Regions from separate parts of the Homo sapiens genome. Here all the other regions are linked to region 2. The links come from fine-mapping of genetic effects on gene expression. A gene starts in region 2. Each other region holds a variant in brackets. All regions are shown on one strand. Distances are between the middles of the regions. Region 1 overlaps STXBP5-AS1 (STXBP5 antisense RNA 1). Region 2 holds the start of STXBP5-AS1 (STXBP5 antisense RNA 1). Region 3 overlaps STXBP5-AS1 (STXBP5 antisense RNA 1). Region 4 overlaps STXBP5-AS1 (STXBP5 antisense RNA 1). Region 5 has its middle 220 kb from the start of ADGB.

Region 1 (5,107 bases), 290 kb after region 2:
TCAACGAACCCTTGCTATATGACTCAGAAGCAAGATGCAGCCAAGTTGGGGCCAAGATGGATTTTGAGAAAAGGCAAATTCTGACTTTTCTGCCTCACTGGATTCAGCATCTCCTGCTTACCCAGAGCTGTCTGAAACAGCACGAGAAACTAGCGGAGTCTCATAAAGTGTGTTACTAAAAAAGCTTAGAGGACATTTATTTTAAATGAGAAGAATTACTGCTCATGGTGGTTTAAAATCCTAATGGTCACTGTGGGTCTCCTCTGAATACCAAATCTCCTTGTTGAGCACTTGCTGTGTGCTTCTCGACAAAAATGGAAACCCGAGTCAAAAGGATAGCCTTGAAGTCTCTTTCCTCCTTTGTCCCCTCCACGTGGCAGAGCGTATTTTTGTAGTTTGAGATCAAGTCTGCCAGCTTGCATTAGCATATCATCCGCCTGGTTACCAAGAAAATGTGCCTGAAGAAGAAAAACAAGAGCGTGTTCGCGGTCATTAGGCTCACATCATGAGCATGAATCAGCAGTTTGGAATTTGCGAGGCTGGGGCTGAAGTAGGCTGGGGAGCCAGCAGAGCCAGCAGAGTGGGCAGGAGAACTCCAGGCTGCCTGACTGCCCCTTGCCTCCTCCTCAAGTGCAGCGCAGCCACCCCTGGTTAAGGAAAAGGCTGAGAGACCCATGACGCAAGGATGTCCTAATCCCTGCATGTCTGCGTTTTCCTGACTTCTTTAACAAATGTTGACCATCTGTAAAGGCAAAAAACGCCTTTGATAGTAGTTATATATGAATCTTTGTATTTGAAAGAAACAGAAATTAATGCAAAAAAATTAATTTACTCTGATTTGCTTTGGACATTTTCTATCATTGGTGTTTGAAAGCAATACTAGTATGCAGATACTAGTGTGGCTGATTTATGCCATGCACAATAAATATACAAGAGATGAAAGATAATTTTAAACTCCTGTAATGCTAGCAGTAATGTAGATAATTGACAATCTGTCTTTTCGCTCCTACACCTCGTGTGCATAAAACAATGCCCACCTTGCAATAAACACTCAGGAAATGATTAATAAATTAAGTCTGTCTTTTGTCTTTCCTACATCCTTGTGTTACAACATCTCTCTGTGTGTTTGTTCCACAAAATGTCTAAATGAAGTCATAGCTGCATTTTTAAAGCACCGTGTTGCTTTGCATGTACCTTTTCATTATCTTACTAAGCTCTCACAAAACACCCTTTAAATCTTCACTTATCAGATGAGAAAACTAAGGCACAGGCAGGTCAAGTGACTTACCCAGAGTGAGGGGAGTTACTTGACGGTAGAGGCAGGACTTTAACCCAGATCTCCTGGCTTTTCAGGGCTTTCATGCTCTCCCACAATGAACAAGGCTGTATCAGTCAAAAACTCTCTCCTAGTTATCGTGACTTTGGGTGAAGACTTTGGGCTACGGTGTTGCATCTCACAGGAAGTCTGTGATCAGGGGCAATTGATCATTTGACCCTATTGTCAGTCATGAACCCTGCAGAAAGCTTTGTTTTATCAGACAGCTGTCTAAAGAAGCAGAAGGTTTAGAGCAGTTGCCTTCAGAAGCAGCACTTCCAGGAGACAGGGAGGGCTGGAGCAGAGACAGGGTGGTGTTCAGGATTGGGCACCAGGAACGTGTAGATGCAGAACCCCCAGGTGTTCACAAGAAGGGCAGCCAGGAAGGGACATGGGCAATGCTTGGGCCAGACCACACTTCCTTCTCTGTTCTGCCTGTGTCATCTTCTCTTCCTAATCTGTGTGGGTTGCCATCATTCCATGGCTCTCCTGGGTGATTCTCTAGGGCCCATGACTTAATGCTGATGGGATTAATTTTAATGGCTCTACACAAAGTCAGAATGCTCTTTTAATAATATACTATTGATTTTCTCCATGCATTGGGTGTAAGCTTATTTCTGCATGGGATTCTGTGGAGCAATAGGAGTTTACATTTATATTCAAATCTGGCAGCCATACGTCAGGCCTCCTCTCAGGATGAGCACAGACCACTGTGGTGCACCACTATGAATCTGTATAATGAAAACTGCCTTTGCTACTTTCCTTTTTCATTTTAGGAAAAGGAAATACATTTTGTATACATCAATGAAATTATTAGAATACCCTCTGATACAGAGCTCAGCTCTCTTGGGAAACCAGACCTCTTATGGGTGAAGAGAGAAATAAAATATTAGGAAGCTAAATCATATGTATCTTTATCTTGGCTCTTAGCAGCAAGGCAACTTTATAAAATGTGATTATGAATTATTGAAATTTTTCTTAAAGACAGAAAACTATAAATAAAAGTCATCCAAAGGAAAAACATTGCCATGATTTATGTGCATTCTTTAAATAATTCACCAAGAGGAAATTAGAAATATTTGTTTATATGCTTGTTTGTTTATGAGATGTTTCTGTCAAAAAGAATTTAATAGGAAATCTGTTTTCACTCAAGTCCAAATTGAAATTTCAGAAATGGGCTACCCCAATGCAGAATTCATCATCATAAATGTTAAGGATTTGGGGACCGTGAAGGCACCCTCTTATCAAAACTTGTGGGCACATATGTGTGGCTGGGTGTGCCGGGTGGGGCAGCAACATGATGTCAGGTTGTGTCCTTGCTCTTCTTATTCTTTAGAGCTCTTCTCCCTCAGGATACTCCAGCTAAGAAAGTATGGACGCTTCCCCTAGTTTAGAATGCACTTCAGATGGATTCCAAGCTAGAACAAGGTCTATCTGGAGGTGAAGTCATGTGACATGAACTAATGGCTAGATTTCTACTGAGGAAGCTTGGGGTCCTTGTCTATAAGGTAAAACTATCAATATTATCAACCTCTTATGATTAGTGAGGATAGAATGACATCATGACTATGAACATCTTTTATGAAGTAGAATGTTGGGCTGAGGTCAGCTGTCTTTTCTGTCTAG[AGG/G]ATGAAGAGATCCTCCTAGCTTGGCGGAATACTCTGCTCTGATGGAAGTACCATCCTGGTCCAAACATGAAAGAATTCCCAACATCAAGATTGATTGAAACATATTCAATGGGTATGTGTGATCTTCACATATGTATCTATTGGAAGTATAACAAAATTCTTCCATTTGTGTGGTGGTGAATGTAAAATTTGTATAGCGGTGAATGTAAAATCAGAATGCAAAACCAGAAAATCAGAACCTGGGCTACTCTCCACTGTCCTCCACAAATTAGCTCTGTAAACTTGGGTAAGTCACTATACCTTTAGGCCTTATTTTTATTATTTGTAAAGCATAGGATTTGGATTAGGACATATGACAAGTATTAAAACTATGATACTAAAAGAAGTATAATGAGTAGATCTTTTAAAATGGTAGCTCCTTTAATATAGTTTAAGCCTTGATAAGAATCAGGGGAAAATAGTTCAACTCAGCTTCAGCTTCTCAAAAATCATGATTTCCACATAAGAAAGATGACCCTCCAGGGGAGAGGGAAAAGCAGAGAGGGACATGGCACCCTGCTGTGCAAGCCACAGGGAGGACACACATTTTGTCTGAGAAGACACATGTTTTTATTCAAACGGGACTCTACACCTGTGAGGAACTTACTGTGGTGAAGGTAACGTGCTCTATCCCTGAGAATCAACTTAAAAAAAGGATCCCTGAGAATCCTTGAAAAGGAACAGAACTCCTAATCAGGAAACACTGCATAGAATTTAAACATTAGAAATGAAAGTGTGTGCTAAGAATGAAACAACAACAATGACATGGGCCTTTTTTCTTACCATTCTGTTGCCTGAATTCAACATCTTCCTTTGGAAGTGATTCTTGTCTCCTGTAGCTAAACCGGTGTCTAGAATCAGGGATGGGAAGCAGTAGGCAGGGATGTGTGGACACACAGAGACATGGAGGTGCAGGAGGAGCAGTTATTAACAAACACTCCAGTCACAAGACAGGCTTGAAGACAAAGCCTTTGAGACAAAGACTTAAAGTCTAAAGGAGCACTGGTAGTATTCATCTTGTACAGGGAAGCAGCTGTCCACAGAGAACTCCACACCCATTTTGCCTTCACTCCTTGCATAATGGGAAAATATACAGTATTTTATTTGGAGCTGGTGAAATTTTTCCCTTTTGTTTTGGCTTTTCAGTGGAGGGAGGATTAGCAGAGGGCAAGAAAGAAAATGCAGTAACTCATTTAGGAAGAAGGTATAGGTGCTAGAAATAGTCTTTGTGGAAAGAATATCATATTTAAAGCAAGAGGGTAAATTTTGTTGCAAGGGAAATGAGGAACAAATCGATACAAGGTAAAATAGTTGCCAAGTCATAGGAAAGAGTAGAGACAAACATTTTTTAGACTTGTCAAAACAACTCATTATTGTACTGTCTGTGCCAAGGTCTTCAGAGTCGGTACATTTATTTATGTTTGCTCCTCAGACCACTATAACTATTTAGTTTCTCTCCCAGCAGACAGGCATTGCTGACTTGATATTCTGGATTTTGTGTTGGCCATCACACTTGGCCATTTAAATGCTTTACTTGGACCATGGCCCTGGCACACCTTTATCTCCAAGTTCATACTAGAAACCTTTATTATAGTGGTTTAATGGGAATTTAGTAGATTTAAACCAGCCTGAGAAATAACCACTTAACAACTTGCTTCTATTGGATGGCTTCAGAATCTATTCACTCGTGCCTCCAATAGTTGTGTGTTGTTGCCCAAGCATGTCCAGAGAGGTGAACTGACAGCCAACCACTTCTTTCACAAGATCACCCCGTGATATGACACAAAATGTCACCATGACTTGGAAATCCCATCTTTTGAATTTCTATCTCTGGTTATTCCATGAAAGGAAAATGTTTAACAATATCTTCAGAATGTAGAGCTTTAGAGCTCTGTTTCCTGAGGAGTAGCTTAATTAAGCACAAGTAATTTCAGCCTATGCACAGGAGGTCATGAGTAGTAACTGGTTACTGTTTGATGGTAGGATGCATAGTTTAGCTCCCTCAGGACAATCCAATGACTATATGAGACACTAAAGAAATCATCAAGGCCTGCCTTTGATTTTACGGTTGGAAGAACTATGGTTAGAGTGGTTGCTGCTTGTTCAAGGTCAAACATTAACTATG
Region 2 (5,107 bases):
GTTTAATGTATAGTAACCTAACAGTTTTTACAAATACATAACAAATGTAGACTATGAGAGAAAAAGTATATCAAGAGAAAAAATTTATCCCCATGCATTTTTCAAGAAAACGCTCTAAAAACTGGTAGAAATATTAACCATTTATAACTATTCATAGAAAATTAATTTGCTACACTTCTGCTAATTGTTTTTCTACACGGACATGCCAAAAACAACCAAATTCAGATTGAAATCCAATCTCTAATTTATTAGAATAGGTCATAAGTTCAATATCTACCATGCATAATATTTTTAAAAGTAATTGTCTTTAAACCTCATCCTTAACATACCTCATTCATCACACCAATAGTATAGAAGCAGATATATTTTTCCTTAGAAACTTCTATCTCCTTACAAATAAAATAGTTATCATAAAAAAACTTTAGACCTCTATTTGGATATATGTTTAGCTACTATAAACTAGGAGCTGAGAAACATCACAGCAGTATATAAGCTGAATTATAATCAAGGGAAAAGCCAACACATGATTTCTCATAGTATATATCTAATCACACCAACAGGAAAATAAAAACTTTCTTTGGAACTAATCAGCAACACAGAAGGACTGGGGAGAACAAAGTAGAAGTTAAAAAATAAAATTAAAGAAAGGATACAGCCTTAAAGCACCAGTCTGAGTTCCCACTGCCAGGATCTTCTGTACAGGATCAAAGGCCAGGGCTGAGGGTTGATAGGGAAATCCATGGCGAACAGTCTAGGGATGGGCAAGTGACATCACAGCAACCAAGGCAGCAAGCGAAATTTTAAAATAGAAAGTCAATAGAGGCGTTAGAATTTAGAACCACTACCACTGATGCAAAACACATACACATGCACTTACTGCTTTTGAAAAAATAAGTGAAACCTACATTAACAAAGTTATTCACATAGAACCTGAAACAAACAAAAATCTAGTCCAGTGATATACTTTAATTTCGCTTTTCCATAATACTGGTATTCCATAGAAGAAAATCTTTTATTAATATTCTATACTACTACATCCGACACCAGATGACTAAAGTTTGCAATGGTCCAAAATTCTGTAAACCCATTAAATGCAATTCATACTTTATTTTGGCAGTATTCATTTCATCATTACTTTATTTGGATGCTAACGCAAGTACTTCTAAGGAAAAGCTGTCATATAATTACTTTAGTCAAGCATTCAGTAGAGCAATAATCAAACCTCTATCCCAACATTTTACACTTGTAACAGAATGAAGATGAGTACAACATACATTTTTGCAATTTACTATTAAGGCCATAATCATTTTAGGGCATTAGACCTATATATATATATATATATATATATATGCACACTTTTAATTAACTCTGACATACAAATACATGGCTATTTATGAGAAAGGCAGGTATTAAAACCGAGGCAAGTTTGTGTTTCTCATTAAGCAGCTGGTGACTTAATTCGCTGCATCATTCTTTCTGAATTACAGAACGCTATGGCAATTATCGTGCCATTAACAGGCAAAAATCTCAGTACTTTTTAACAAACATAATGATAAAAAGAACCCTGTGATTTCATATCGTAAGCCACTTACACCACATTTTAAGGGAAAAGTGATGAGCAAAGGTGTGGTAGAACAGGTTTGGCTTTTTGATAAACAACATTCATTAGACACCGTTTCCAAAGGAAACTTCGAAGTTGGTGAATCATATTAAAACGCTTGAATATAAAAGCTTCCAGGTTATTACTGGCAGTGTCAGAATACGATTAAAGGTCGGATAATAGTTTGAAGCAACCTTGAACTGATTGCTGCATGTGCAAAGGGGAGAGAGAAAAATCAATGAAAAGGAGTAAGGTATCAATCTCCAAAACAACCCACCGAAGAAACGTTTGCCAAGGGAGGAGCGAGCCTTTTATTAGAGTTATTATTATTATTATTGGCGTTCTCTTCCCTTGCATTCCCATGTAAAGCCCGAGTAGCCCCCTTAAAACAACCCCAATTTTTCAATGACGGTGTCGCGGGGCTGCGCGCTCCGTTCACCTTGCAGAGCTGAAAGTGCTCGGACTGGAGCGTTTCCTGGATCTCCGGCTCCCGGTTCCCAGGCGGATGCTGCTGCTGTTGCTGCTGCGACGCCGAGGACGAGCCGGCGGTCAGGCCGTCCAGCACCTTCCTGATGTTGAATTTCCTCATGGTCTCGGAGGGGCTCCCCCGCAGCCCGGGAGGGGAGGCACAGGGGGTCCCCGGGCGGGGGAGACCACCCGGGGCCGAAGGCAGCTTCGACCGCGGAAACGGAGGAGTGGGAGTGTGAGGGTAAGGAGGCAGCTGGGGGGAAGCAAAAGATAATCCGAACAGGAAATACTGCGACGACAAGAGCGGCGGCCGCAAGAAACCTGGGCGGCGACCCCTCTTCCTCCGAGGCCGCCGCTGCTTGGCGCGGCTGCTGTGGTGCCGATTCAGCCGCCGCCGCCGCCGCCTCGCTCCGCGGCCCGGCAGCAGCAGCAGCAGCAGTGGCGGCGGCGCCCGAGCCCGCTCAGCCCAGCCTCACCTGGCCGCGGGCGGACTCTGCGCCGCGCCGCCGCCCCGGCTCGCCCCCGGCGCCGCCACCGTCGCCGCTGCGTCCATGGCCCGCGGCCGCGCCGCTGCTCGCCCGCCCCGGCCCCGCAGTCCCTCGGCGCGTCCTCCGGCTCCTTCTCCTCCTGCCGGGGGTCGCCGGCTCTCTGTCCGCGGCCGCCGCTCGGCCTCGCACACAAGGCGCCTGGTGTGGGTCCCCGCGCCGCCTGCCTCGCCCCGCCTCGCTCCTCCGCCGCTGGACCGGCCCGCCCTCGCCGCTCCCGAGCCCGGCTGCGTTCCTCAGGCGCCGCCGCGGCCGTCGGCTCTCCCCGCCCAGCCGCTCCCCATCGCCTGACAGGGCGCCTCGGCACACGGCACCAACGCCCGCCCGGAGCAGCAGCGGCAGCCGCGGTTACAGCGCGGGCCGCGGCGGTGGCGGCAGCAGGGCCTCCCAGGAGCCGGGCTGCGGTACCTGCGCATGCGCGCCGCAGCCCGGTTCCCCCACCCTGGCCCAGCAGGCCCCCAGCCCCCCAGCCCGAGCGAAGCTGGGGCTTAAATTATCTTCTGCGAAAATCCCAGACGCTGGCTAAATTTCTCCCACCCCAGTCGAGTTGCCAGAGTATGCAGCTGCTTCTCTTGCAGCTGGCATAGTAAAAATGTTGACGACTAACAAGCAGCAGGAAACCTTTCTTTCCAATTCAGTCATTACAGCAGGGGTTGATGCTTTCTCGCCGTTAATGGGGTGCACGCTCCTGGCCGCTGGCTGCAGTATTATTTTTCTTGCTTTATTGACGGGCGTTGTTTTTGTTTGATTGGATTTGAGTTTTGAAAAAGAGCGTCTAGACAACGATATGTCAGTGGCAGGAGGATGATGGACTTAGGTACTAGGAAAAGGAGAGAAACCTAGACGGGAAAAAACGGGTTCTTTCCTACAGCTGTTACTGTTGGTGGAACGTGTCTGGTCTTAGCAGTTAGCTGCTGGGATGGAAGAGGCTGCCAGCGGGGAACGGTTCCAGGGCCGGTGTCAGCCCGGGCCGATGACACTACCCCGCACCCAGCCCCTCGCCGGGGAGGAGCGCGGGTGGCAGGAAACGCCGCGCTGCCACTATTTTTCAGAACCTTCAATCTGCCCTGACGCTGATGAGCCACTCAGTAATGCCCTGGGAGCTTCACTCTAGAACGGGGAAAGGGGGATAGGATGAAGTTTTTGCTCAGATCTTTCCGAGGCCGCACTGCCCATCTCGCGTGAATGCTTGGAGACAAATGCCTGGCTCAAGTTGGAAAAGACAGACAAGAGATTGTGCCGGGGAAACCCCCCGGAGAGTGCGTTCAACAGGACAGGTGGACGGAAGCACAGGTACTTGATTAGGAAGGATGTGGAAATAGGAAAGACGTAAGGAAGGAAGGAAGTGCAGGAAGACTAATCCTAATTCGGGGAGAGGGGGACAGGTTCCTAGCGAATGACTCCTCGCGCGCTCTGGTCTGCGGAAAAGCCACGGAACCGCCACAAAGGGTTTTTTTAAGTTCCAAACCTGTCAGAAGCACCCGCCCTCTTCTTTGTGAGGTCGGCTCCCTCTCCTTTAGGGAAATTCTCGTCACCCTATTGGTTGAGTTAACCAGCATTCAAAAGCAGTCAGCGAACCAACTACGACTGGGCCCAGGGATTTCGGGAAATGTAGTCCACTCTGCAGCTTCCGCATCCCAGGACGATGTCTTGCATTTGGAACCTACAAAATTTTGATTTGTCGTTTAATATTTATTGAATTAGTTGATTCGCTGGGTGCAACGACCAAGAAAACAAATGTGAGGACATTCCTAAACTATTTCCAAGTGGCTCTGAATTTTTTATTAATTTAGTTCTCTAACATTTTGTTGTCAGGCGGTGTGCTAGGTACTAAAGACACGAAAATGCAATCCTTGCTTTCAGCAAGCTCACTACGGTCTAACGGAGACGACTTTTAACATAAATAGTAATTGTAAAACGATGTGATGAGTCCAATGATGGAATAATGAAGGAGGACGGCAGAGGGCCACTTAACTGGCCAGGAAGGCTTGGACATGGTGACGCCCACCATAGATCATGCCGGATAAGGAGGAGCAGACCTAGCGAACAGGAGGCAAAGACCATTGGAAGACAATGGGGAAGAGAGCCTCAGAATTACCTTGAGAGCTTTTTAAAAGTACATGTGATTCCACAGGGGGAAATTGCAAAACAGACAGATCACAACCCCATAGAATTGTATGATCTGCCTTTTTACTTACCTAGGTCTAAAATAAATCTATTGGATAATTTTTCATCATTGGATTATAAAACTTTCTAGAAAAAAAAGACAACTTCTTGTTGAGAGGCTTTGTGGTGTAGTGGGAAAATATAGGCTTTGTTGTCAGCCAGCCATGAACTTCAGTCCAGGCCATGGTAATATGTGTAATCTTGGGCAAATTTTAAATTTTTCTAGGGATCAGATTCCTCAGGTTTAAAATGAGATTAATACCACCTTCTTAGAAATTTATGAGCATGAACTGGAGGGGGAAAAGAAAGAATATGAAAAGTTTGTACT
Region 3 (5,107 bases), 300 kb after region 2:
GCCAGGCATGGTGGCTTACGCCTGTAATCCCAGGACTTTGGGAGGTTGAGGCGGGCGGATCACGAAGTCAGGAGCTCGAGACCATCCTGGCTAACATGATGAAACCTCATCTCTACTAAAAATACAAAAAATTAGCTGGGCGTGGTAGCACACGCCTGTAGTCCCAGCTACTCAGGAGGCTGAGGCAGGAGAATCACTTGAACCTGGGAGGTGGAAGTTGCAGTGAGCCAAGATTGTGCCACTGCACTCCAGCCTGGGTGACAGAGCAAGATTCTGTTTCAAAAGAAAAAAAGAGTATTTGTTGATAAATAAAAGTTAAACTTTAAAAAATATATTGTTTTCCCATCACTTTTATTGTCTGATTGAGGAAAATTACCTCATATTTGTCTCATTCAGTTCATCTTTCAACATGGGATTCTAACTATAGAAGTTGTCATGAAACCAACCAAAGTTATCAACAGAGCCCTGGCTTTAGAAGATACTGCCTTGGGTTAACAAAGAGGACAAAAATAACCTGTGTTTAAGTGTTTAATTCTGTTTTCATAATGTATTTATTTCAAAGATTTTTAAGTGGAAATATGGGACTTTGTAAAATAAGTTTTTAAAAATATCCTTAATTGTTCATGGCCAGAGGAGATGAAATTGCCAGAATAAGGATGACATGGAACACCCAGGGGTAGACTAGGAGGGATGTAAATGTGAAGATACCAAGAGATGGCATCCTTGTATCTCCATCAGTGCCTGTCATCACAGAGCTACCTTAAACGATCACATAACCTAAGGAAAATGAGTGGGCTTAGTATGTAAATGCAACTTTAAGACAATCCCCAGCTTTTCTTCCAACATATTGCAGTCCCTGAGCCCATAGCGTAATAGAAATTCTGGAAGCTAGCATCTTCTAATCCAATAAAGCTCAATAGTAATAACAAAAACCTCTAAAGAAGTCGTATCTCAAGCTTGAAATAACTTGTAACCTCCTCATCTCTTTTTCTGTATTGTTACTGAGTAGCAATCTTGAATTCAAGCAATTAAAAAGTGGAAAATATTTGTAATATTCCTATATCAATAACACTGGTTAAACACTTTATATATATATATATATATATATATATATATATAAAATACACTTACATGAAGTGCATAATTTAGCACTTACTATAGACCAGATTCTTAATTTTGTGCATTACCTCACTTGTTTCTCAAAGCAGCACTGTGTGAAGTAGATACAATTCTTTTACCCATGTTAGTAGTTGAGAAAACAATCTCAGAGAGCAGAAATGACTTGCTGCAAGTTATACCATGAGTGACAGAGCTGAGAGGTTAGCACAGTCTCTCTGACAGGAACACCCTAGCTTATAACCACCATGTAACACTGCCAAAACAGTAAGGAGGTATTTGAGTTTTCAGGGTCTGCACACATATGCAGTTGATGGCTGTTGGGAAACTAAATATGAAAATAGCTTGGCTTATGCAGTACAGAAAAATGTTTATTCTATTTCCTAGGATGTAGGCTGGTGGCAGAAAGTAGACCCTGGAGAACAGGAGCACTTGGTTTCAAATAAAATACCTGCATTAAATATTCAGCTTTCCTGCACCTTTATGTGAGTACAGTACCAGAGGAATGGGCAAACTGGCAATGGCTCAGCCTTGGTATAAACAAATCTCTGCACTGGCCCCACTGAAGGCCTGATACTTTATCAACTGGTGAGACCCAGAAGGGGTACCAGGAACACACAGTTTCCCCAGGGCCACTGCTGCAGCCTCCCTGGTTAGATCGTGGTGCCAATCAGGCCTCCAGGTTGATAGGAATTGATGTGGATTAGTTTCACAAAGCTGCCTCTCTTTAGCCCCAGTCAAATGCAGCTGTCCAGGTAAACCTAATGCCAGCAATGGTCAGATAGGCATCTTTGTGGTTGCTTGGATAATAGGTATGTTTATTTCCTCTGTGATGTCTGGGCAAGTGCCAAGGTTCAGGCCTCTGGCTAAGGAAGCAGAGGGACTCAATGGGAAATTGCCAGAGGGCTGACTCTAGCTGAACATTTTTGCCAGCAGCTATTTGATCATTCTAAAGATAAAGAGGACAAGGAAGAGCCAAATTCATTTTGCAACTGGAGTCCTCTGGGTGTTCAGTCTCTTTGTAATATACTGTTAATGTGATTAAAATGGAAGCATTTAGACTTAAATGGTTGTTGGAATAAATTAGGGACATCAAAATTGGCAGAGTTTAGGTTTTGAAGAACTCAATTCTGTCAGCTCTCCATGAAAGTTAATCACTCCAATATTAAGCTATTTTTTTCATGATGTGAAATTTGGCAGTGAACAAAATCAACAGGGTCACAGCTTCAAAGAGGAATCCACTACATTTTGGCAGAGAAATGTGCCTAAGAATGCCTCTTTTAAAGGACTTAAGAGGAAGCATCTATTAATCAGAGGGGGTAGAAGAGGTGTGTGTGTGCATACATGTACCCAGTATCTGAGAGCCAGTCGGTGAAACTGATTTTTTAATGTAATCTGCTGTCTTCAAACACTTTTCCATTGGTCTTCAAAAATAAAAAGAAGCAAAAATTCAAATAGCAAAAACACCTCTAAATGTACATGTGACACAGACATACGCATACATGTATATAAACACATATACGCAGACAGGTAGCACGTGAAGAATAAGA[T/C]GGTGAGAGATGTGTATATATTTATATGCACGCATGCACATGTGCACACTGACATTTTGGTTGCCTGGGTAGCAAGCAGAAACAGAAAGCTTCTCAGAGTAGAGCTAGCCACTTCTTGAAGATCTGACATGTCTCAGGCAGTCGTGGGTAGCTCAGAGCAAAATCTTTGAAGAAAGCAAATTTGAATGTCTCTTTATGATCGTATTTATACCTCAGACTTTTTTTTTTTTTTTTAATCCTCAGACTCCTTAAGTCCATGGGGAAAGGGCTGCAAAATAGGAGTTTGGCTTTTTGGCCTATGAATTAATGACAGTTTCTGGATCAGCTATTTCCCAGAGAACAAATCTCTTATTTCCCTCAACACACACACACACACACACACACACACACACACACACGGATACAGAATATACACATGCACTCAACATTATCAGCTCTTCTGTATATGTGTGTCTAACACATTGTTAATGGTTTTCATTTTCAGTGTTTTAAGGATTTCCCTGAAGGTTATCCAAATAACAGCTTTGCAAAAAAATACATAAAAGGCCACGTTCAAATTGTCTTTTGAATGATGCCCTTGCTAGTCATGAAAATAAGCTCTTTCTCATACGCCCGGTGCAGTACTAAAAAAGAACCTGGCACCAGCCGTGATGAAAATCCAGTCTGGGGACTAGGAGAAATGAAATATACTGTGCCCTTTCTCTGAGGTCATGACTCCATCCTCAAGAAGGCTATAGCAAACAATGTTTAGGGGTAGAAAGTGTCACATGTAAAATATCCACTGGGAACTTTGGCTTACGATACTCCTGCATATGCTAGAGAAGAAAACAAAGGTTTATTTCCTATGATATATCAATCTTAGGCTTTTTATGTGATCAGGTAAAAGGGAGTGTGGGCTACAGGTCTGGGGACCAGTTCTCTATTTTAGGCATTGATTCTACATAGTTTGTGACCTTGGACAAATCATGAACCCCTATTCAGAACTTATCTGTAAAATTAGGATGAACATGTCAACCTCCTCCCCATTGTGGCTGAGAAGAACAAAGATGATTCTTAGATGTCACCTGTGTGAAACCAACAAAGTGCTTTATAAATATGAGCTACGGGGATTTACATAGAGGGAAACTAATACATGCAAGTAGGGAGTGCAACGCTTCCTTCTGGAGAGGAAGAGGCCTCAAGAGGAAGGCACCCCTGCAAAGGCGGGAGGGACTGGCTGCTATTGTCTAACGCATGTTGAATGAGTAAGTCCTCTAAGGACCTTTATCATCTCCGTCTTCCAAGTGCCCGCTTGGTTTGAATGCCCACACGGTCAATTTGAGTTGAATTTCCAGCCTGCTAATGTGTGTTGATGTTGTTGTTGCTGAGAAACTTGCATTTCCCCTATAGATTAGTTGATCTGCCTTTCTATAGAGTCTGAGTTCCTGATCTTTCCCCCACTTTAGTGCTAACGTAATAAAAATAGAATTGCTGCATAATGATCCAAAGCCCTAATTGATTCTCCAGTTACTGTAATTGTGTCTCAGACCTCCAAATCCACACTGAAGTCGGCTATTGATGAAGCATTCTAACCAGAACACAAGACTGGAATGCATGGTGGGAGAACCTCAAGAAAAGGAGATCTTGTTTTAATTAAAATTAGCCCTTACTAACAAAAGAAAACAGTTGTTCTCAGGCCTTGGATGCTAACAGGAGCAAGATTCCTCCTGAGGGGAGTGAACCTCAATGTTTTTTTAAAAATGTTACCAGCTTTTCAAATAAGTAGGCTGCTCAGTCCCTTAACAACCTAGATGGGTAGCCTTTCTATAAATAGCTCATCCCATTACATTCTTGTTTATTCTCTGTTTATGTGGTTACTGGCTTTATTCTTGCCTATTGTGGGTAGATGCCCAGGCTCCAAGGCAACTTTGTATTTTTGTCTTTTGGCAAAGCAGAACAAGGGGTGGGAGTGAAGAAGATGAAGATGGCGACTCTCCCCCTACACCTACCAACACAGCAACCTACATACTGTCTGTCTGAATGTCCCCAAGGGCTCCAAGTAAATGACAGTTTTGTCAAAAATGCAACTGAATGGTTAAAAGAATATGAATGATCTAGGTAAATTATAAAGCCTAAGATATACACACACATGTATATGCATGTGTATGTGTGTATACACATTTACATAGCTATACTATGCATACATGTGCATATGTATGTGCATATAGGTATATTCAAACTCTTAAATATGAATGCATTGAAACTTTAAATAAAAGGGAAGGAAGACAATGAGTGCCATCTCGTGGAGAGGAGAGCTACCAGTAAATTTTCCAAATTGTCTGTACTTCAGACATTTTTTTAATGACTAACCAATATTCCTCGGAGTAAATATTTTCTTCCTGCCTTTCCAGGTTTTTCACCTAAATAACAATAAGTGTCCACTACATGAACACTGTCTTGTT
Region 4 (5,107 bases), 340 kb after region 2:
AGGTTAGAGTAAGTGGCAGCAAGCCCAGTATGCTTCAGCTACTTGAACTGCATGTAAATTGCAGAATTGATAGGGGTTGAGGTTGTCTAATATTTACTTGCAAGGAGTAATAGGGTTTGCTTTAAAGGACTTGGAAGAATCCAAGAATCTGAGTGTTCATAATTCATCAGATGTATAATTCTAAAAGTGGGAGAAGATTTGAGACCATCTTATTTCTTTATTTTACTAGCGAGGAAACCAAAACTCAAAGAGATTAGATGAATGGCCAAAGCAATACAGAGAGTGAATGGGGCAGGCCCATGTCTCTTTACCCTTGGGCCAGTGGAGCCTACAGGCCTCGGCAATTGGTCTTCTAGAAGAAGCATTCAAAGTCGCAACAGATGAGATGGGAACTGGAAGGGTGGGTTGAGCACGACCCTCTGTGTGCAGAGGGGAAGCTGGTTCTATAAACGAACTCCAGAACATTTGCTAGAATAGGGATACAAATATAAAATCATAAAGCGTCCTACCTCTCCTCTGAGATACTGCCTCTAATTTTATAAAATTCCTCTCTCAGTGAGGAAGTAGAAAATGGCAAATAGCCTTCAGTGTGCTTGATTTTTCAACCCAGCATGATAGAGACATCAACAAAATTTATTAGGTTTAAATGGGATTGACTAGATTAAGTTCTCTACCTAAGAAAAATTGGGGGTTCTGTGTCATATGTTAAAATTTGGCTTCAGGAAGAATGAGATCACGTCCTTTACAGGAGCATGGATGGAGCTGAAGGCCATCATCCTTAGCAAACTAATGCAGGAACAGAAAACCAAATATTGCATGTTCTCATTTATAAGTGGGAGCTAAATGGTGAGAACTCACAGGGACACAAAGAAGGGAACAACAGACACTGGGACCTACTTGAGGGTGAGGGATGGGCGGAGGGAGAGGAGCAGAAAAAAATAACTGTTGGGTACTGGGTTTAGTATCTGGGTGAAAAAATAATCTGTGCAACAAACGCCTGTGACACAAGTTTACCTATATAACAAACCTGCACATGCACCCCTGAACCTAACATAACATTTAAAAAATAAATAAAATTTGCTTTCAGAAAGTAAGATTATGGCTCAGGAACACCTGAGAATATGATAGTAAAAGTTCATACTTGTAAAATGTAGGGAATAAAAAGGATTCTGAGGCTAAAGAAAAGCTTTAAAAACTTCTGATCTACTAAACTGGTAAGTTAGAAAATTCCTAGTCTACTCTTAATGGAGAAAATAAATGATTTTTCTCAGATTACAACACAATAACAGAGACTAGAGCAAAGACATGATCCAGAGATATTTCCACCCTTCACTTTAAGAAATCTGTGCAAAGCAAAAGAATGGCAGGTGTCACTGGGCATTGAGTGGAGTAGGATCCTTTCCAAGTGTGCTGTCTTCTATGATGAGGTTTCTTGGAGTGGGGATTCTTGATTCTGCATAGGGTGACCCAAAGCTTGGTGATACCTAGGTAGGTTGAAGAGACACTCAACTGTTCTGGGAAAAGAATAGACCAGGGCCTTCTGCTACTTGAAGGCTTCCCTCTCTGTGCCCTAAAAAATAAATAAATAAATAAATAAATTAATTAATTAATTAAATAAATAAATGGTGTGGAATCCTTGGGGCTTCAGGGAAGCAAGGAACCGAGGACTGAACTTTGTGTTTGAAGTTAGGATAGTTTGTATCTGGATGACTTAAAGATCCGTTGGCAAGAATGGAAACCAAGTCTTCCAAAGAGAAACCTACAAGAAGGAATGTGGTCAATTGCCCGGGTGACTTTGGTGCAACCAAAAGCCTTTGAGTGTTAGCCAGGGAGGGCTGGTTCAGATTCTGCAGATCCAGTTTCTAGCAGTAGAGCCTGGTGTCAGCATCAGTAACTAGTACACTGACCAGACTTTCCAGTTTTTTCTCTCTTCAACCGGCTGCCTAGTGTTCTTGTACAGAATGAACCCTTTGGAATGAATAAGTCCATAGTGTTCTTGGACAAGGCAGTAGGAGGGAACCTGAATAGGTTATACTGGATATTTTTCTAAAAACCAAACTGTGGGAACTGAAAAATTAATTGAGAGGGGAGGCATACAAGAGAAAGAGATGTGATTTTATTTAACTACAAGCTGAAAAACGTGACCCATCCTGGCTACCTATGAATATCATTAGTTCGATTAATCTGTGGATATATTATGAGATTCTCTAATTCAACATTTGGAAGTGCTTATGGACTTGAAACGTGTTGGTCAATGCTGCGCTGAAATGGGCAGCCTGGGAAGAATACTATGGGAGAAATGCGAGGATCTCTGTGACTCTCCAGGGAGCAGCCTCTGGAGGGGAACTCTTCTTGCTCCTTTTCTACAGATATCGGCATATTTTAGAGGAGTCTGTTTTCAAACAAAAATGGCAGAAAGGACCCCTTTGTAACATGAGCATTTCTTTTAGGCAAATAAGCCTCCCTGTGACCTAGGTGTTAAGAGCTGCCTTTATGATGATTTTCCCTGGACTTCACAAATGACACCCCTTTTGAGTGGTTCAGTTTGAGTGTTAACAGAAACCTATGTGTGAGTAACACGTATCCACAAATATGTTGTCTAGTTGGAAGATAAATATATGCAAGGTCATTAAGGTCACAGGGGAAATGTAATAAAAGTCCAATTATTTTGGCAAATATGTTACATCTAAATATGCATTTGCTTTTGATACTCTAC[A/G]GTTTAGGCCCCATAAAGATGATTTAGGGTGTCGTCTCTTCCTTGGCTAATTTATGAGCCCAGAGAATATGCGTCTACTCTGACCTCACCTGCTAACTTGCTAAGTGGCTTTTCTATTCCCAGAAGTTCATAGCTGTGTGCAGAACAGCCTTTGTGACTTAGAGGTAGATAAACAAGTTGGTTTTCTTCACTCCCATATTAAGCTTCTGCTCAGCACTTTCTAGAGGCGCTGCCTAAAAGTCTAAGATAAATAAAGATGTAACTGATAGGTTTTCTCTGTTCTTTCTAAAATAATCACCTTTTTGGCGACTGTATTTGTTAATAACTTAGAACCACTCAATAGGTTAAGTGAGTGTGTGGGGGTAAATGAAATCTCATTCATGGAAATAAACTTGAAACATTGAAATATTAAATTGATGATGCATGTGGCTAGACAAAAACACTTTGTAAACCAGCTACAGTTTTGAGCTTCTCATGGAATAGATCCATTTCATTTTAACTGTGCTGTTCATGCCAATGGCTGTTAGCTGGGTTTCTGACAGATGTCAGCAATGCAACGAAATCCAAATGCCTGAATGATCCTTCCTCCTGGATGTGATGCAAACTGTATCAAGTTTCTGATGCCCAGACCAGAGCACTTATGAGTCTCCAAACACAGTTCTTCTATGCTCTCCATGACCTGTCCTGTGTCATTTCGTTTAACACATAGATTTATATTCAGAAAATATAGCTATATATGCTGTGACTCCTTAGAAGACCTGATGACCCTTACAACCTAAACAGGCACTAAACACTGCTATGTTGTAGAGTGCAGGATCTGCAGTGACAGGCAAGTCCCAGGTTACCTTTTGTGACATAAATTTTGACCTTTGTCCCATATATTGGCTATGCCTCATGCTAAATTTGGGGCTCTGACGGTCAGCTCCATCCCCTGGTCAGCCTCAGGACCATGTCACAGGATGATGTAGCCAAGACATACGTGAGGACCACCAGTTATCATACTGTTGGCTCTGCACACTCATGCTACACCATTGAAATAAAACACAGAAATTCATCCCCTCTTCCTAGGAGCTGAACTTCTGCAGCTGGCAGAGACTCCCTGCATGTTTTCTGAGAAGAGCTCAGGGACATAAGAATTCATTCTGTGGAGCATAACCAGGCTTTTAGCCTCCATCCCACACACAGCTACACATGCTGTAGTAGGGGAGAGGCCAAGGACGTTGTCTGGAAAGGTGTAAGGCCAACCACAGAGTCCCCGGGCCGCGTCCTGGACCCACGCTAATCATTCCACCCCCAAGTAATTGTGGGATAATGTGTTCCCTTCTTCATAGGCAAAGCAGGTTATGGAAATTATTTTATGAAAAGTACCTGGGAGTGTTGCCAAGCTAATTTTTGGTTCATTATACCATCTATTATTAATACATTATCACATAATGATTGTATGGTCTGATCTTTCCCTCATACATACTATGGTGGTTTTTCCGTTTGTGTGTGTGCAGTGTAACTGGATCTTGGTTCATGCTGAGCTTAAAATTTGATCTTCTGAATATCAGCAGAAAGACTCTTTCTGGTGAATACAGATCTTCTGAGCAATTATCGACTGACTTTGTCATTAGACTGCCCTTTCAGAAGGTACAAAAAAAGAAAAAGAAAATTACTACTGTGAAGTGAAGTCTGAGCAACTGGGAAGAAATGCAAGGTGAAATGAAATGGTGAAGGTAAATGAACGGGAAGAACCTGGGGAGATGGTAACCACGTTAATCATAGTAAACTGGGATGAAAAGACAGAGAATAACACAATATAGAGACTTTTTTAATTATTAGAGGAAAAGATAGGTCCAATAGCATGACTAGAGGCTTTGAAAAGTAAAGACAGCTCAAAAGGAACAAAATTCTCAAAGCATTGTAATTGTACAATCCTAGCTCACCTTCATGAGAGGAAAGTTTAAGAAACAGGCAGCAGGAGGGGGCTTGCTGTCTATTTTTAGAAAGATTTTGGCCAAAAAAGGAAGTGTTAGCACAAAAAGAAGAGTCAATTTTTACAGACACATGAGGGGTAGTGTTTTCCAAAAAGACCGAAACGTGGCACAATTGTATTCACCTTTGTAACTCCAGCACCCACTATAAGGGCAAGGCCCCCCAAATGTCTTCCATTGATTTTGTCATTTGGAGAATTTGCTCCCAGGTTCATATGAGAAGGTACGGCTGACATTGTATGGTATGTGGGATTTGCTTCAAAACAATCCAGGGAGGAGAAAGCAGGGGTGAGGGTAATGACGAAATAAGATTGACTGGCCGGCTGCAGTGGCTCACGCCTGTAATCCCAGCACTCTGGGAGGCCAAGGCGGCCGGATCACGAGGTCCGGAGATCGAGACCATCCTGGCTAACAC
Region 5 (5,107 bases), 390 kb after region 2:
TTAGAAGTAAAAATTCTAGGGACCGTGTAGTCTGATTATAAGCAAATAAAATTATAAATAAGTAACACACTTCTAGTGGCAGGATAATGATGTGTCATATTTTTGCTTTTCCCCAAAACTACTCCTGAAAACTATAAATACAATTGTGATGGCAAAGCAAGTACACACACACCCCCCACAAAAAACAAAACTCAGATAAATTGCTAGCAAAATTAGATGACAAGAAATTCCCATAAACAAGAGTGGTATTGAGAGTGGCAGGAGGCAGCCAAATGCCTAGGCAGATAGGGGCGGGCCCCTGGTGAAACCCCACCTCGAAGCCAAAGACAGTTTAAAGCCTGAAAGCCAAGCTACAGGTTAAATCCTCCATGCTTTCCTCTGATTGATCCCCACCCTTCACCTATTTTACATATACCTACCCTTTCCTAATTGGTTTTCTACACTGTCATGCCCACATTTGAGTGATGTCTTCGCTTTAATCTTTTTTGCATACTCACAAACCAATCAGCACACACTCTCCATTCTGAGTCCATAAGAGGCCCCAGAGCCAGCAACAGGGGAGGGATTTTCCTGCCCTCAGATAGGGGAACCACCCCTATATCCCCTCTCCGCTAAAACCTGTTTCATCGTTCAATAAAATTCTTTTCCACCCTCCTCACACTTCAATGTACAGTGCATCTTCATTCTTCTTGGGCGCAGTAGAAGATCTTGGGAACCACAGAACACAAGTACAAGCTATAACACAGGTGAGCTGGGGCACAGTATCATCCCCGAGAGCGGCCCAGGTAGGGCATCACTGGCTGGGGGTCCCTGGCTTGCAAAGCGACCGAGAAAAAGAAAATCCTGCCTCTGTAGTTGTGGCCCAAATAAAGACAATCAGCAGGATTATCTGAGCATTTAGACCTGTATGGTTGGCACAGGTGAAAACACAAAAACCACCAACGGACCCTAATATCCATGAAATTCCACTTGAAACTCTAAGAAATATCCAGAAGAACTTGCCTTAAAGTAGGAGAACACCGTTTGAAGAAGTAAGCAAACTGAGAAAAATGCTGGCGAAAGGGGAGAAAGAATGCTGAGACCAAAGGGTCACGGATTCAGATTACCGCAAGAGAAAAAATATCTAAAGATAGAACTGTCTTGAAAACCAAGGTCCACAGAAATCTAGGAAACAGAGGCTTAGAGGCAAAAAACTCAAAATCTGTCATAAAGCAGAATTTTCTCTGACAGACAGAGAAATGGGAAATCAGGCCATATTTTGATGATTACAACTCTAAAGGAAAATAAAAATCTCAGATCCCCCAAACTCATTACGCCAAAGGGAAAGATAAGCCTGGAGAGCCTGGAGGCTGAGTCATGCAACACTGCCATTCTTTTCCCAAATGAATAGCTTGTTCTTCACAACCTTGTGTCAAAGCATTGTACATTTGTCAGACCCCACAGAAAGGCAAAAAGCTTCACTGTCCAAGCTGTTCCTAGGTGAGTTCTTTGCTGGCCTGGAAACCTTTCAAAAATGTGTACGTTCCCATAAAACAAGGGCATGTCAATTACAACTTTAGATCTGCAATCCAAGTCTAGTACCGAAAACTAAAGTCTGTTAGAATTCACACTGACAATGTCGATAACAAGTTTGTCTTCCCAGGTGCAGAACATACAAGAAGGGATCAATCATTCCTCCACCTAACCTGAGATGTCTGCATGGTTGATTCTTCCTTTACTCCCTTGTTCTTGGAATGTTCACCTTATCTGATATAAAATGTGCATTTCATGGGCACTGATTAAAATCTCACAAAAATGTAACCATTTGCCTCACCACGTACCTGCCTCTTCCTACATGCCTTCCCCCCTTTAAAGAAATGTATAAACATTGAACTTCCTGAAAACCCCTTCAGAGAACACAAGCACAGATGTTTCTGTGACTCGTGTTTTTTTGTTTTTTTTTTTTTTTGGGCACCCCCTCAAGCTTAACAAATCTCGAGACATTGATGAAACTCTTGCCTCAGTCTCTCATTGTGGGGCATCCTCCATCCATAAAGCTGGGAGAGTTCCTTTAGATTCTTTGTCATTTATA[T/G]GAACCTGCTTCTAATAGTTTATAAAACTCAATCTCTTAAATAATGGGGGAAAATCTGTTATTAAAGATGAGATAAAATGAAACAAATAATAGAAAATGAAAACATCCCAGAGAAGTATGCTTTGATCAGAAGAAAAATGTAACATAATGATTCAAAATAAGCTACAAAAAAACTATCAGAGCTTTGGAAAAATAGCAAAAATCAGAAATAGAAAAAGCTTAAAGAGTAATAGTTTAAAAAACACAGCAGGCTGGGCACGGTGGCTCACATCTGTAATCCCAGCACTTTGGGAGGCCAAGGCAGGCGGATCATGAGGTCAGGAGTTCGAGATCAGCCTGACCAACATGGTGAAACCCTGTCTCTAAAAAAAAAAAAAAAAAAAAAAATTAGCCAGGCGTGGTGGCACACACCTGTAATCCCAGCTACTCAGGAGGCTGAGGCAGGAAAATCACTTGAACCTGGGAGGTGGAGGTTGCAGTGAGCTGAGATCACACCATTGCACTCCAGCCTGGGAGACAGAGGGAGACCCCATCTCAAAAAAAAAAAAAAAAAAAAAAAAAGGCACAGCAAGAAAAGTAAAAGAAAGCAAGTGAAAACTATCAAACAAATAATAGCAAAAAATATCTGAAAGAAAGTAATTGATCAAAAATACATCATTTAAATTATAATGACAAATTGTTTGCAGATGAATTTTTATCTAACTTAAAGAATATATAATATTAATGTTAGTACTTGAATATCCTGAATATATATATACACACACTACCTGAATATATATATACACACAGACACATATATGTATATATAAAATTCATAAATTTATGAATAAATTATGGTATATTTGTACCATGGAATATTTCATAACAATTAAAAAGAATTAACAGTGACTTCAAGAGATTCTGTGTTGTTTGGTGAGAAAAAGCAAGACACATTGTATTATGCTTTAAAGAATGCCATTTTGTAAAACAAACCAGGATATAATATAAAATATTGAGGTGTGAGCATATGAGATGAATGAAAAATATGGAAACATTCAAAATAGGTTGTTTCTATGTATGTACTTTGGGAGCTGGGGTCATAAGGTTGTGAAGCTAAGAGTAGGCAAAGAATAATGTAAAAATGCACATTTGCATTTATTAAGTAACATTACATATACAACTGGGGAGGTGTATAAAATATTAACTTTTTCATGTAAACTTAAAAAATTTTTTGAAAAATAAACATTGTATATTTTCAAAGTATACCACATGATGGTTTGATATATGTATACACTGAATAATGATTAATATATTCAATTTAATTACTACTATTGATTCTGATGGCACCATCCGTTCTGTGCCTGAGATACACAATTTGTCAGCTTATAACTAAATGTTTGTACTCTTTGACCAACATCTCCCCATTTCTCTCACCCCTAAGTCTCTGGTAACCACTGTCCTACACTTTGCTTCTATGAGTTCAACTTTCACAATTCCACATGTGAGTGAGATTATGCATTATTTTTCTTTCAGTTTCTGGCATATTTCACTTAGCATAATGCCCTACAGGTTCATCTATGTTGTTGCAAATGGCAGGATTTCCTTCTATTTTATGGTTCAATTATATTCCATTATATATATATATACCACATTTTCATTATTCATTCATCAATTGATGGACACTTAGGCTGTTTCCATATCACTATTGTAAATAATGCTGCCATGAACAGAGGGTTGCAGACCTCTCATAGACATACTGATTTCGTTTCCTTTAATATATACCCAGGAGTGGGATTGCTAGATCATATGGTAGCTCTAGTTTTAATTTTTTGAGAAACTTCCATACTGTTTTCTGTAATGGCTATTGCAATTTACATTCTCACCACAGTGTGTACAGGGTTCCCTTTCTCCACACCCTCCCCAACACTTATCTCTTGTCTTTATAAAAGCCATCTTAACAGGTGTGAGGTGATACCTCATTGTTGTTTTGATTTGCATTTCTCTAATGGTTAATGATGCTGAGTACCTTTGCATATACCTGTTGGTCATTCCTGTGTCTTCTTTGGATTGGTGTTTATTCAAGTCCTTTGCCCATTTTAAAACCAGGTTATTTGCTTTTTTTGCTATTGAGTTACATGAGTTTAATATATTTTAAATATTAGCCCCTTATCAGATATACAGTTTACAAGTATTTTCTCCCATTCTATAGATTGTCTTTTCATTTTGTTGTTTCCTTTGTCGCGCAGTAGCTTTTTATTTTTATGTAGTCCTACTTGTTTATGTTTGCTTTTGTTCCCTGTGCTTTTGGTGTCATCTCCAAAAGAAATTGCCAAGACCAATGTCAAGGAGATTTTTTTGTAGGCAATCTTCTAAGAGTTTTATGAGTTCCAATGTTACATTTAAATCTTTAATCTATTTAATTTTTTTATACAGCATAGGGCAATGTTCCTATTTTATTCTTTTGCATGTGGATATTTAGTTTTTCCAACATCATTTTTGAAACGATTTTCTTTCATCATGTGTATTTTTGGCATCCTTGTCCAAAATTAGTCGACCATATATGGGAGTATTAAATATTTTTAAGCTAGGCATGGTGGTTTATGCCTGTAATTCCAGCATTTTGGGAAGCAAGCTGACATGGATGGATCTCTTGAACTCAGGAGTTTGAGAACAACCTGGGAAACATGGCGAAACCCTGTCTCTACAGAAATTGGCCGGGTGCCATGGCTCCAGCCTGTAATCCCAGCATTTTAGGAGGCCGAGGTGGGTGGATCACCTGAGGTCAGGCGTTCAATACCAGCCTGGTCGACCTAGTGAAACCCCCGTCTCTACTAAAAATACAAAATTAGCCAGGCGTGGTAGCCACACCCCTAATCCCAGCTACTCAGGAGTCTGAGGCAAGAGAATCACTTGAACTCAGGAGGTGGAGGTTGCAGTGAGCTGAGATTGCGCCATTGCACTCCCGCCTAGGCAACAAGTGTTAGGAAAAAGCTGAGTGTTGGGACAAAAACTGAGGCAGGGCTTGCATGTCTGACATAATGTCCTCTGGAATGTGTC

Evidence for each region. PIP is the estimated chance that this variant, and not a neighbour inherited with it, causes the effect.
Region 1: its variant is the best candidate, but not a certain one, in a credible set for the expression of STXBP5-AS1 in esophagus mucosa (GTEx, PIP 0.88).
Region 3: its variant is the best candidate, but not a certain one, in a credible set for the expression of STXBP5-AS1 in whole blood (INTERVAL, PIP 0.89).
Region 4: its variant is the best candidate, but not a certain one, in a credible set for the expression of STXBP5-AS1 in whole blood (INTERVAL, PIP 0.72).
Region 5: its variant is the best candidate, but not a certain one, in a credible set for the expression of STXBP5-AS1 in whole blood (INTERVAL, PIP 0.69).

What each region holds. Positions count from the first base shown.
Region 1 is chr6:146,909,500-146,914,606 of GRCh38, reverse strand. All of the region lies in intron 7 of STXBP5-AS1 (STXBP5 antisense RNA 1), which reads left to right. Among named protein-coding and RNA genes, the nearest start is that of LUADT1, 250 kb to the left of the region's middle. The variant AGG/G (reference allele first, on the strand shown) is at 2,942.
Region 2 is chr6:147,201,615-147,206,721 of GRCh38, reverse strand. STXBP5-AS1 (STXBP5 antisense RNA 1) reads left to right here and starts at 2,108. Exons shown (of 11, transcript NR_034115.1): 1 at 2,108-2,309. It overlaps STXBP5 (syntaxin binding protein 5), which reads right to left and starts at 2,305. Exons shown (of 28, transcript NM_001127715.4): 1 at 2,040-2,305; 2 at 654-751. The coding sequence starts at 2,189. LOC124901422 (a long non-coding RNA gene) reads left to right here and starts at 3,151. Exons shown (of 2, transcript XR_007059803.1): 1 at 3,151-3,906; 2 at 4,429-4,846. RefSeq lists silencers at 2,163-2,352, 2,523-2,602, 2,623-2,672, 2,703-3,122.
Region 3 is chr6:146,902,413-146,907,519 of GRCh38, reverse strand. All of the region lies in intron 7 of STXBP5-AS1 (STXBP5 antisense RNA 1), which reads left to right. Among named protein-coding and RNA genes, the nearest start is that of LUADT1, 250 kb to the left of the region's middle. The variant T/C (reference allele first, on the strand shown) is at 2,667.
Region 4 is chr6:146,863,711-146,868,817 of GRCh38, reverse strand. All of the region lies in intron 7 of STXBP5-AS1 (STXBP5 antisense RNA 1), which reads left to right. Among named protein-coding and RNA genes, the nearest start is that of ADGB, 270 kb to the right of the region's middle. The variant A/G (reference allele first, on the strand shown) is at 2,717.
Region 5 is chr6:146,816,105-146,821,211 of GRCh38, reverse strand. No RefSeq gene overlaps it. Among named protein-coding and RNA genes, the nearest start is that of ADGB, 220 kb to the right of the region's middle. The variant T/G (reference allele first, on the strand shown) is at 2,072.